Linked DNA regions of Homo sapiens: region 1 is linked to region 2. Evidence: fine-mapped expression QTL. A gene starts in region 2. The other region holds a variant in brackets. All regions are shown on one strand. Distances are from middle to middle. Region 1 overlaps RELB (RELB proto-oncogene, NF-kB subunit). Region 2 holds the start of APOC4-APOC2 (APOC4-APOC2 readthrough (NMD candidate)).

What was found. PIP is the estimated chance that this variant, and not a neighbour inherited with it, causes the effect.
Region 1: its variant is the best candidate, but not a certain one, in a credible set for the expression of APOC4-APOC2 in monocytes after LPS (Kim-Hellmuth 2017, PIP 0.57).

The regions. Positions count from the first base shown.
Region 1 is chr19:45,018,323-45,023,575 of GRCh38, forward strand. It overlaps RELB (RELB proto-oncogene, NF-kB subunit), which reads left to right. Exons shown (of 12, transcript NM_006509.4): 5 at 3,731-3,888. Among named protein-coding and RNA genes, the nearest start is that of CLASRP, 18 kb to the right of the region's middle. RefSeq lists an enhancer at 1,809-2,103. The variant C/T (reference allele first, on the strand shown) is at 2,266.
Region 2 is chr19:44,939,075-44,944,564 of GRCh38, forward strand. APOC4-APOC2 (APOC4-APOC2 readthrough (NMD candidate)) reads left to right here and starts at 3,164. Exons shown (of 6, transcript NR_037932.1): 1 at 3,164-3,279. APOC4 (apolipoprotein C4) reads left to right here and starts at 3,163. Exons shown (of 3, transcript NM_001646.3): 1 at 3,163-3,279. The coding sequence starts at 3,204.

The DNA.
Region 1 (5,253 bases), 79 kb after region 2:
GAACCCAGGAGGTGGAGCGTGCAGTGAGCTGAGATCGTGCCACTGCACCCCAGCCTGGCCAACAGAGCGAGACTCCATCTCAAAAAAGTAAAATAAAATAAAAATACAAAAATTAGCCAGGCATGGTGGCAGGCACCTGTAATCTTAGCTACTTAGAAGGTAGAGACGAGAATGGCTTGAACCTGGGAGGCAGGGGTTGCAGTGAGCTGAGATCATGCCATTGCACTCCAGCCTGGGCAACAGAGCAAGACTCCATCTCAAAAAAATAAATAAATAAGAATTTAAACCTACAGAAAAGTTAAAAAATAATACACTGAGTATCTTTGAAAGGTGAGTGCCTGTTATTTATTTATTTTTTTTTAATTTTTTTTGAGACAGAGTTTCGCTCTTGTTGCCCAGGCTGTAGTGCAATGGCGCGATCTCGGCTCACTGCAACTTGTGCCTCCCAGGTTCAAGCGATTCTCCTGCCTCAGCCTCCCGAGTAGCTGGGATTACAGACATGTGCCACCACGCCCTGCTAATTTTGTATTTTTAGTAGAGACGGGGTTTCTCCATGTCGGTCAGGCTGGTCTCGAATTCCTGACCTCAGGTGATCCACCCGCCAGATTACAGGCGTGAGCCACCGCGCTCGGCTGAAAGCTAGTGCCTTTCATCTATATTCACCAGTTGACATTTTGCCACATCTGCTGTGTCTCTCATTCTGTCTCCGCACAGCCAAACATACACACACACAGATACATACATTTTTGTTTTGTTTTGAGACAGGGTCTTGCTCTATTGCCCAGGCTGGAATACAGTGACGCCATCACAGCTCACTGAAGCCCGGATCTCCAGGGTTCAAGCAGTTTTCCCATCTTAGCCTCCTGAGTACCTGGGACTACAGGTGCATTCCACCACACCTGGCTGATTTTTGTATTTTTTGTAGAGATGGGGTCTGCACATGTTGCCCAGGCTGGTCTTGAACTCCTGTGCTGAAGCAACCCACCTTCCCTGGCCTCCAAAAAGTGCTGGGATTACAGGTGTGAGCCACCACGCCTGGCCGACACATTGTTTTTTTGATGACTCATTTACAAATGAATTGTAGCCATCATGCTACTTCACCCCTAATTCCTTCAGGATGTATCTCCTAATCATAAGCTCCTCTGTAGCTACAATCTCATTAATCACCTCTAGGAAAATTAGTAATCCCATCAAATCATGTAATATACAGTCCATATTTCAATTTCCCAATTGTTTCCAAAATGTGTTTTATAGTTGTTTCTTCCTCCTTAATCCAGGATTTAACCAAGGATCATGTTGCATTTGGTTGTCCTATCTCATTAGTCTCTCTCCTTCTCTCTTTATTTATGTATTTATGTATTTATTTATTTTTTGAGAAGGAGTCTTGCTTTGTCACCCAGGCTGGAGTGCAATGGCACGATCTGGGCCCACCGCAACCTCCATCTCCAGGGTTCAAGTGATTCTCCTGCCTCAGCCTCCCGAGTAGCTGGGACTACAGGCATGTGCCACCACGTGCGGCTAATTTTGTATTTTTAGTAGAGACGGTGTTTCTCCATGTTGGTCAGCCTGGTCTCAAACTCCCGACCTCAGTTGATCCACCCACCTCGGCCTCCTCAAACTCCCAACCTCAGGTGATCCACCCACCTCGGCCTCCTCAAACTCCCGACCTCAGGTGATCCCCCACCTCGGCCTCCCAAAGCGTCGGGATTACAGGCGTGAGCCACTGTGCGCAGCCCTTCTCTCCTTTTTTAAAAAAATTAAGATATAATTGATCATATATAGTTAAGATTAAAGCTCTGAATTTTTACATATAATGTATACATATGTAGTTTACACAGTGTAACTACCTACCACCCAGGCACCCAGGTCACAATACATGATTTATTCTCTTTCTCTCTCTCTCTTTTTTTTTTTTTCTTTTTTGAGACAGGGACTTTGTCACCCAGGCTGGAGTGCAGTGACGCAATCTGGGCTCATTGCAACTTCCACGTCTCAGGCTTAAGTGATCCTCCCACCTCAGCTTCCAGAGTAGCTGGGATTATAGATGCCTGTCACCACACCTGGCTAATTTTTGTATTTTTTATAGAGACGGGGTTGCCCAGGCTGGTCTTGAACTCCTGGTCTCAAGCAGTCCTCCCACCTCAACCTCCCAAAGTACTGGGATTACAGGCGTGAGCCACTGTGCCTGGCCCATCATTTGTTGTCTTTTAACCCCAAATGTGGCACCCATCTTTTTTTTTTTTTTTTTTTTTTGAGACGGAGTCT[C/T]GCTCTGTCGCCCAGGCTGGAGTGCAGTGGCGCGATCTTGGCTCACTGCAAGCTCCGCCTCCCGGGTTCACGCCATTCTTCTGCCTCAGCCTCCCAAGTAGCTGGGACTACAGGTGCCCGCCACCACGCCCAGCTAATTTTTTGTATTTTTAGTAGAGATGGGGTTTCACCATGTTAGCCAGGATGGTCTCGATCTCCTGACCTCATGATCTGCCCGTCTCAGCCTCCCAAAGTGCTGGGATTACAGGCGTGAGCCACCGCACCCGGCCATGGCACCCATCTTTATAGTCTTCCATGACACTGAAATTTTCACGTGGTGGCTCATGCCTGTCATCCCAGCGCTTTAGGAGGCCAAGGCAGGCAGATCGCTTGAGTTCAGGAGTTTGAGACCAGCTTGGGCAATGTAGCGAAACTCCGTCTCTACTGAAAACACAAAAATTAGCCAGGCATGGTAGTGTGCGCCTGTAGTCCCAGCTACTCAGGAGGCTGCGGCAGGAGAATCCCTTGAGCCCGGAGGCGGAGGTTGCAGTGAGCTGAGATCTCCCGCCACCGCACTCTAGCTTAGGTGATACAGCGAGACCCTGTCACAAAAAAATTTAAAAAAGGCCAGGCACGGTGACTCACGCCTGTAATCCCAGCACTTTGGGAGGCCGAGGCGGGCGGATCACGAGGTCAGGAGATCGAGACCATCCTGGCGAACACGGTGAAACCCCATCTCTACTAAAGATAGAAAAAAATTAGCCGGGCATGGTGGTGGGCACTTGTAGTCTCAGCTACTCGGGAGGCTGAGGCAGGAGAATGGCGTGAACCCGCAGGCAGAGCTTGCAGTGAGCGGATCCAGCCTGGGCGACAGAGCGAGACTCCATCTCAAAAAAAAAAAAAAAAAAAGCCTGAGTGGCCTAAAAAAGCAGCCTGTAGGGCAGATATTATATGAGGCCCCCCAGTTCATCAGTTGGAAGCTTCTGGTTTAGGATATCAAAGTGGCCTTTTTTTTTTTTTTTTTTTTTGAGACCGTCATATTCTGTCACCCAGGCTGGAGTGCAGTGTCAAGAACTCGGCTCACTGCATCCTCCGCCTCCCAGGTTCAGGCGATTCTCCTGCCTCAGCCTCCCGAGCAGGTGGGATTACAGGCATGCGCCACCATGCCGGGCTAATTTTTGTATTTTCAGTAGAGACTGGGTTTCACCATGTTAGCCAGGCTGGTCTGGAACTCCCGACCTCAGGTGATCCGCCCACCTCGGCCTTCCAACGTGCTGGGATTGCAGGCGTGAGCCACCTCGCCCGGCCCAAAGTGGTCTTAAGCAAACACATTCCATCATCCTGGTCGCGGGAGAAGGTTGGGGAGCTCCCAACAGAGGACCCTAGTGGGGAGAGGATTGGGGAGCTGCCAAGGAAGGCCCCAAGGAGTTTGGATGGACGCAGGCATCGGTGATGGGACCCCCAAAGAGGACTTCTCTTCCTGCAGCTCCGGGATTGTGGAGGGCTGCGGGAGGTGGAGGTGACTGCCTGCCTGGTGTGGAAGGACTGGCCTCACCGAGTCCACCCCCACAGCCTCGTGGGGAAAGACTGCACCGACGGCATCTGCAGGGTGCGGCTCCGGCCTCACGTCAGCCCCCGGCACAGGTACCCACCCCCTGACCTCCGACCTCTCATCCTTGATCATGGAGATTCTAAGCGACTGGAGGCCACCCATGAAACTTTAGAGCAGAGGGCAGCTTGGGTAAACCCTCCCCACTGCCTCTTCTAGGTGGGAGACAGGCCTGGGGACAGTGGAGGGCCTCACTTAGGCCTGGAGCCTTGCCACACACATATTCACATACATTTTATCCCTATTTTGTAGAGGAAGAAACTGAGGCTCAGAGAGGGTAAGGAGCACAGATAATTGATGACAGAGCTGGGATTTGACTGCAGACCTGACTTAACTGCAAGGTCTGTTCTTTCTCTTACTTTACAATTCATCTTTTTTTTTTTTTTTTTGGGACGGAGTTTTGCTCTTGTTGCCCAAGCTGGAGTGCAATGGTTCGATCTCAGCTCACTCCAACCTCCACCTCCCGGATTCAAGTGATTCTCCTGCCCCAGACTCCCGAGTAGCTGAGATTACAGGCATGCGACACTACACCCAGCGAATTTTTTGGATTTTTAGTAGAAATGGGGTTTCACCATGTTGACCAGGCTGGTCTCGAACTGCTGACCTTAGGTGATCCTCCCAGCTCGGCCTCCCAAAGTGCTGGGATTACAGGCATGAGCCACCGTGCCGGCCTTTTCTTTCTTTTTAAAACAGAAGCACTGTATAACTTTTATTTTGCATATGTCCACAAATGCTTACACAACATACAGTGGCTACATCTAAAACTTTGAGCATTTTTTCATAGTGCAAAGAGACAGAAAGGTAGTGACACACTTCACTGTGTTACACTGACTTTGGGTAGAGCCCTAAAGGCAGCACGCACTTCAGAGGTAGGGCTGAGTATTGCTCACACTCAGGTCTGGAAGATTTAATTTTAGAAATTTTTAAACTTAGTGAAAATATAAGTTCCGAGAGCAGAGATCTTGTCTCTTACATTCCCTGCTGTATTCCGAGTGTCTGGCATAGTAACTGGCACATAGTAGGTGCTCAGGAAATATTTGTGGAATGAATGAATACTGCCATGTTATGCAATTTACAGACCCATCAGTAATGGGTGAGAGCACCTGATTCTCCACAACCTCACCAGCACCGAGTATTATGAAACATTTTGATTTTTGCTATTTTGATGAGTGCCCCAAAACAAAGGCATCTTCATTGGTGTTTAATTTGCAGTTTTCTTTCCTTCCTTCCTTCCTTCCTTCCTTCCTTCCTTCCTTCCGTCCTTCTTTCTTTCTTTCTTTCAGACAGAGTCTCGCTCTGTCGCCCAGGCTGGAATGCAGTGGCGCGATCTCGGCTCACTGCAAGCTCTGCCTCCTGGGTTCAAGTGATTCTCCTGCCTCAGCCTCGCAAGTAGCTGGGAC
Region 2 (5,490 bases):
GGGCAACTTGGCAAAACTGTGTTTCTACAAAAAATAAAAATATTAGCTGGGCAGCCAGGCGCAGTGGCTCATGCCTGCAATCCCAGCACTTTGGGAGGCTGAGGTGGATGGATCACCTGAGAGGTCAGGAGTTTGAGACCACCCTGGCCAACATGGTGAAAACCTGTCTCTTTAAAAATACAAAAAAATGAGCCAGCCATGGTGGCTCACGCCTGTAATCCCAGCACTTTGAGAGGCCAAGGCAGGTGGATCACCTGAGGTCAGGAGTTCAAGACCAACCTGGCCAACATTGTGAAACCCCGTCTCTACTAAAAATACAAAAAATTAGCTGGGCATGGTGGCAGGCGCTTATAATTCCAGCTACTAAGGAGGCTGAGGCCGGAGAATCGCTTGAACCCGGGAGGCGGAGGTTGCAGTGAGTCAAGATCGCACCATTGCACTCCAGCCTGGGCAACAAGAGCGAAACTATGTCTCAAATACATACATACATACAAAAAATTAGCCGGGTGTGGTTGCCGCACACCTGTAATCCCAGCTACGCGGGAGGCTGAAGCAGGAGAATCGCTGGAACCCGGGAGGCAGAGGTTGCAGTGAGCCAAGATCACACCATTGCACTCTATCCTGGGTGACGGAGTGAGACTCTGCCTCAAAAAAAAAAAAAAAAAAAAAAAAACTTAACCATTGCAGCCATTTTTAGGTGTACAGTTCAGTGGCATTAAGTACATTCACACTGTTGTGCAACCATCCCCACTATTTGCAGGATGTCTTCGTCATCCCAAACAGAAACTCTGGGTGTTTTCAATCTGCTGATGATTGCTACAGAGGAATTCCAGGGGACATCTGTTGCGCACCTACTGTGCTCACGCTGGGGCCTCTGGGATGGACAGGATTCTGCCAAGGCAGACATCTGGGTCAAGACAGTCCTGCACAGTTGTTCAGGTTGTGGCCAAGGTTGCGTTTGCAGATTTGCCATGTAAAAATACAGGATGCTCAGTTACATTTGAATTTCAGATTAATAGCAAAAAAAACTTTTTGGTATAATTCTGAAATATTTCATGGGACATATTTATACTAAAACGTCATGCACTGTTGATTTGAAATTCAAATGTAATTGGGCCTCCTCTATTTCGTCTGGCAAGCGTAGACAAAAGAATCCAGTCCAGGCCAGGCGCAGTGGCTCAAGCCTGTAATCCCAGCACTTTGGGAGGCCGAGGCGGGCGGATCACGAGGTCAGGAGATCGAGACCATCCTGGCTAACACGGTGAAACCCCGTCTCTACTAAAAATACAAAAAATTAGCTGGGCGTGGTGGCGGGTGCCTGTAGTCCCAGCTACTCGGGAGGCTGAGGCAGGAGAATGGCGTGAACCTGGGAGGCGGAGCTTGCAGTGAGCCGAGATCGCGCCACAGCACTCCAGCCTGGGCGACAGAGCCAGACTCTGTCTCAAAAAAAAAAAAAAGAATCCAGTCCATAGTCCCCTGAGCCATGTGCCCTGGGGTGCAGCTGGGTCCTTCAGGAGAAAAATGCTCTATTTCTGGCACTGGGACCGAGCCTGATGTGGGTTTTTTGTTGGTTTTTGTTGTTGTTATTGTTTTTGAGACAAGGTCTCGCTCCACCACACCCGGCTAATTTTTGTATTTTTAGTAGAGACGGGGTTTCACTACGTTGGCCAGGCTGGTCTTGAACTCCTGACCTCAAGTGAGCCGCCTGCCTCGGCCTCCCAAAGTGCTGGGATTACAGGTGGGAGCCACCGCCCTGGCCCTGGGCCTGATGTTGATGACCTCCTACTATGTGCACCTGCAGCTCTCCTGCATAGGCCTCAGCCGTCCTGCATGAGGACACTGGGAGGCAGGTGCTCCCTATCAACCCCGTGTTACAGTTGAACAAACTGAGCCCCAGAAAAGAAAACGTATTTGCCCAGGTCACACGGTGAAGAAGTGAGGGATTCGAAGCCCAGGTCCATCTGAAGCCAGAGTCACCCAGAGGAGAAAGAGTTGGAATTGAGAACTCAAGGAATGCTTGGAAGTGATCGGGCTCGAGCCCACCTAGGAAGAAACAGAGGCTGGAGACATGAGACTGTGTTGCTATTTCCTCTCATCAACCCTTGGGCCCTATTGAGGCCCTACCACAAGCCTGGCCCTGCAGCCCAGTGACTAGGAGAAATTAGACACAAGATAATAATAACAGCAATGATCTTTTTTTTTTTTCTGAGACGGAGTCTTGCTCTTTCGCCCAGGCTGGACTGCAGTGGCGCGATCTCGGCTCAATGCAAGCTCCACCTCCCAGGTTCACGCCATTCTCCTGCCTCAGCCTCCCGAGTAGCTAGGACTACAGGCGCCTGCCACCACGCCTGGCTAATTTTTCATATTTTTAGTAGAGATGGGGTTTCACCGTGTTAGCCAAGATGGTCTCAATCTCCTGACCTCGTGATCCGCCTGCCTCGGCCTCCCAAAGTGTTGGGGTTACAGGCATGAGCCACCGCGCCTGGCCAACAGCAATGATCTTTGAGCACCTATATTGCCAGTCTCCACGGTAAGAGCTTTCTTCATTTTTTGTTTTGTTTTGTTTCAAGACAGAGTCTTGCTCTGTCACCCAGGCTGGAGTGCAGTGGTGTGATCGCGGCTCACTGCAGCCTTCACTTCCCGGGTTCAAGCCATTCTCCTGCCTCAGCCTCCCAAGTAGCTGGGATTACAGGCACGCATCACTACTTCTGGCTAATTTTTGTATTTTTAGTAGGGACAGGGTTTTTCACCATGTTGGCCAGGTTGGTCTCAAACTCCTGGCCTCATATGATCTGCCCACCTCGGCCTCCCAAAGTGCTGGGATTACAGGCGTGAGCCACTGCGCCTTTCTTTGTATTTGTTCAAGTAATATACTGAAATATGTACTGTGCCTCCCACTTTATGGAGGAGGAAACTGAGGCCAGCAAATGAGGCTGTCATGGGAGGTGGAGACAGGATTTGAACCTGCCTCAGTGCAGGAGGCTCAAGAGCCTCTGTCTTCTCTCAGGGCACTGTGTGGGAGGGTGAGAAGGAGGGAGGCCCACAGAGGCATGACCTCTGATTGCCACTGTCACCTGGGCCCTGCTCTCTGAAGTCTCTGCCAAGCGGGGAGGTGGCCGGGGGAGGGCCCTGCTCTGTGCAGCCTCCCCTCCCCCGGCCCGCAGAGTTGAGCACAGAGGGACAGAGGCACGGAACCCCCAGAAATGTCCCTCCTCAGAAACAGGCTCCAGGCCCTGCCTGCCCTGTGCCTCTGCGTGCTGGTCCTGGCCTGCATTGGGGGTGAGAAGAAGTGGGTGGAGGGATGTGGGGCCCACACCTGGTGGGTGTGAGTGTGGCTGTGTGTCCTGTGGCTCTGTAGCCACGTGAGACATGAGTACGGAGTGTGTGCGTTTCATGGCGTGCGTATGCATGTGCGTGTCGGGGAGTGTGTGTGTCGGTGGCTGAGAGTGAAGTGTGAATGTCACATTGGTACAAACTGGGATCATCTGTGTGTGTGCACGTGCGTGCGTGGAAGTGGGAGTATGCAGTCGTGGTAAAAAAGTGCATGTCTGTGTGCATATGTGTATTTGTGTGCACCTGTCTCTCTGTGGGGTATGTGTGTGCAAAATATTTGAGTGTGTGGACATGTGTGAGGGGGTGAGTGTGTGCTGGTGTGTACGTCTGTGTTTTGCATATGCATTTTTTTTTTTTTTTTTGAGACGGAGTCTCACTCTGTCACCCAGGCTGGAGTGCAGTGGTAGCAGTGGTGCGATCTTGGCTCACTGCATCATCCGCCTACCCGTTTCAAGGGATTCTCCTGCCTCAGTCTTCAGAGTATTTGGGACTACAGACACACGCCACCATGCCTGGCTAATTTTTTTTTTTTGAGACGGAGTCTCGCTCTGTTACCCAGGCTGGAGTGCAGTGGCGTGATCTTGGCTCACTGCAACGTCCGCCTCCCGGGTTCACGCCATTCTCCTGCCTCAGCCTCCCGAGTAGCTGGGACTACAGGAGCCCACCACCACGCCTGGCTAATTTTTTGTATTTTTACTAGAGACGGGGTTTCGCCGTGTTAGCCAGGATGGTCTCCATATCCTGACCTCGTGATCCGCCTGCCTCGGCCTTCCAAAGTGCTAGGATTATAGGCGTGAGCCACTGCGCCTGGCCAATGCCTGGCTAATTTTTTTATATTTTTGGTAGAGACAGGGTTTTGCCATGTTGCCCAGGCTGGTCTTGAAATCCTGACCTCAGGTGATCCGCCCGCCTTGGCCTCCCAAAGTGCTGGGATTACAGGCATGAGCCACCACGCCCGGCCATGTACTTTATGTTAAAATGGGATCATATTCTAGATCAGCATTATCCAGTAGAAATTTAAATTTTTAATACAGGGCCAGGCACGGTGGCTCATGCCTGTAATCCCAGCACTTTCGGAGGCCGAGGCGGGTGGATCGCAAGGTCAGGAGATTTGAGATCATCCTGGCTAACAGATGGGTAAAAACCCATCTCTACTAAAAATACAAAAAATTAGCCATGCATGGTGGCATGCGCCTGTAGTCCCAGCTACTCGGGAGGCTGAGGCCGGAGAATCACTTGAACCCGGGAGGCAGAGGTTGCAGTGAGCCGAGATCGCGCCACTGCATTCCAACCTGGGTGACAGAGCGAGACTCCGTCTGAAAAAAAAAAAAAATTTAACACGTATGTAGACAATGTGCAAGGCACCATTCCATGTGCATCGTATGTAGTAACTCTTAATTCTCACGATAACCCTGAGGTAGATATTATTACCCCGTTCTACAAAAGGAGAAACAGTCCTGGGGAGACAGGATAAGTCACCGGCCAAGGCACACAGCTAGCTACATGTGGCCCCCGCGTGACGGCTGGTCTCTGTAGGCGAGGCTTTGTCCAGATGCGTGGGTAGAAGGTCTGGCCCGGAAAGAGGAACTGACAGCAAGGCTAAGCCAATGTCTGCCCCTGGGGGCAGAAAGTCACCTCCTGCTCTCCCTCCACTGTCCACAGAGGTAGCTCAGACAGGGTGGGGGTCACAGGAGAACGAAGGGAGAAGGGGGTAGTTCCTGGGCAGCAAAATCAGGTGGTGAAGGGAGGCATCAGAGGATGGCAATTAGAGAGGCCATTAGAGGGGAACCACAGGCAGACAGGGTGACAGGAGGGACTACTGACACAAGGTGAAGAGATGGCCCAGCCGGACGGGGTGGCTCACATCTGTAATCCCAGCATTTTGGGAGCCCGAGGTGGGTGGATCACTTGAGGTCAGGAGTTCGAGGCCCCAACATGGCAAAACCCCATCTCTTCTAAAAATACAAAAATTAGCCGGGCATGATGGCAGATGCCTGTAATCCCTGCTACTCGGGAGGCTGAGGCAGGAAAATTGCCTGAATCCAGGAGGTGGAGGTTGCAATGAGACGAGATCATGACACTGCACTCCACCCTGGGCAACAGAGCAAGAGACTGACTCTGTCTCATAAAAAAAAAGAAAAAAGAAAAAAAAAAAGA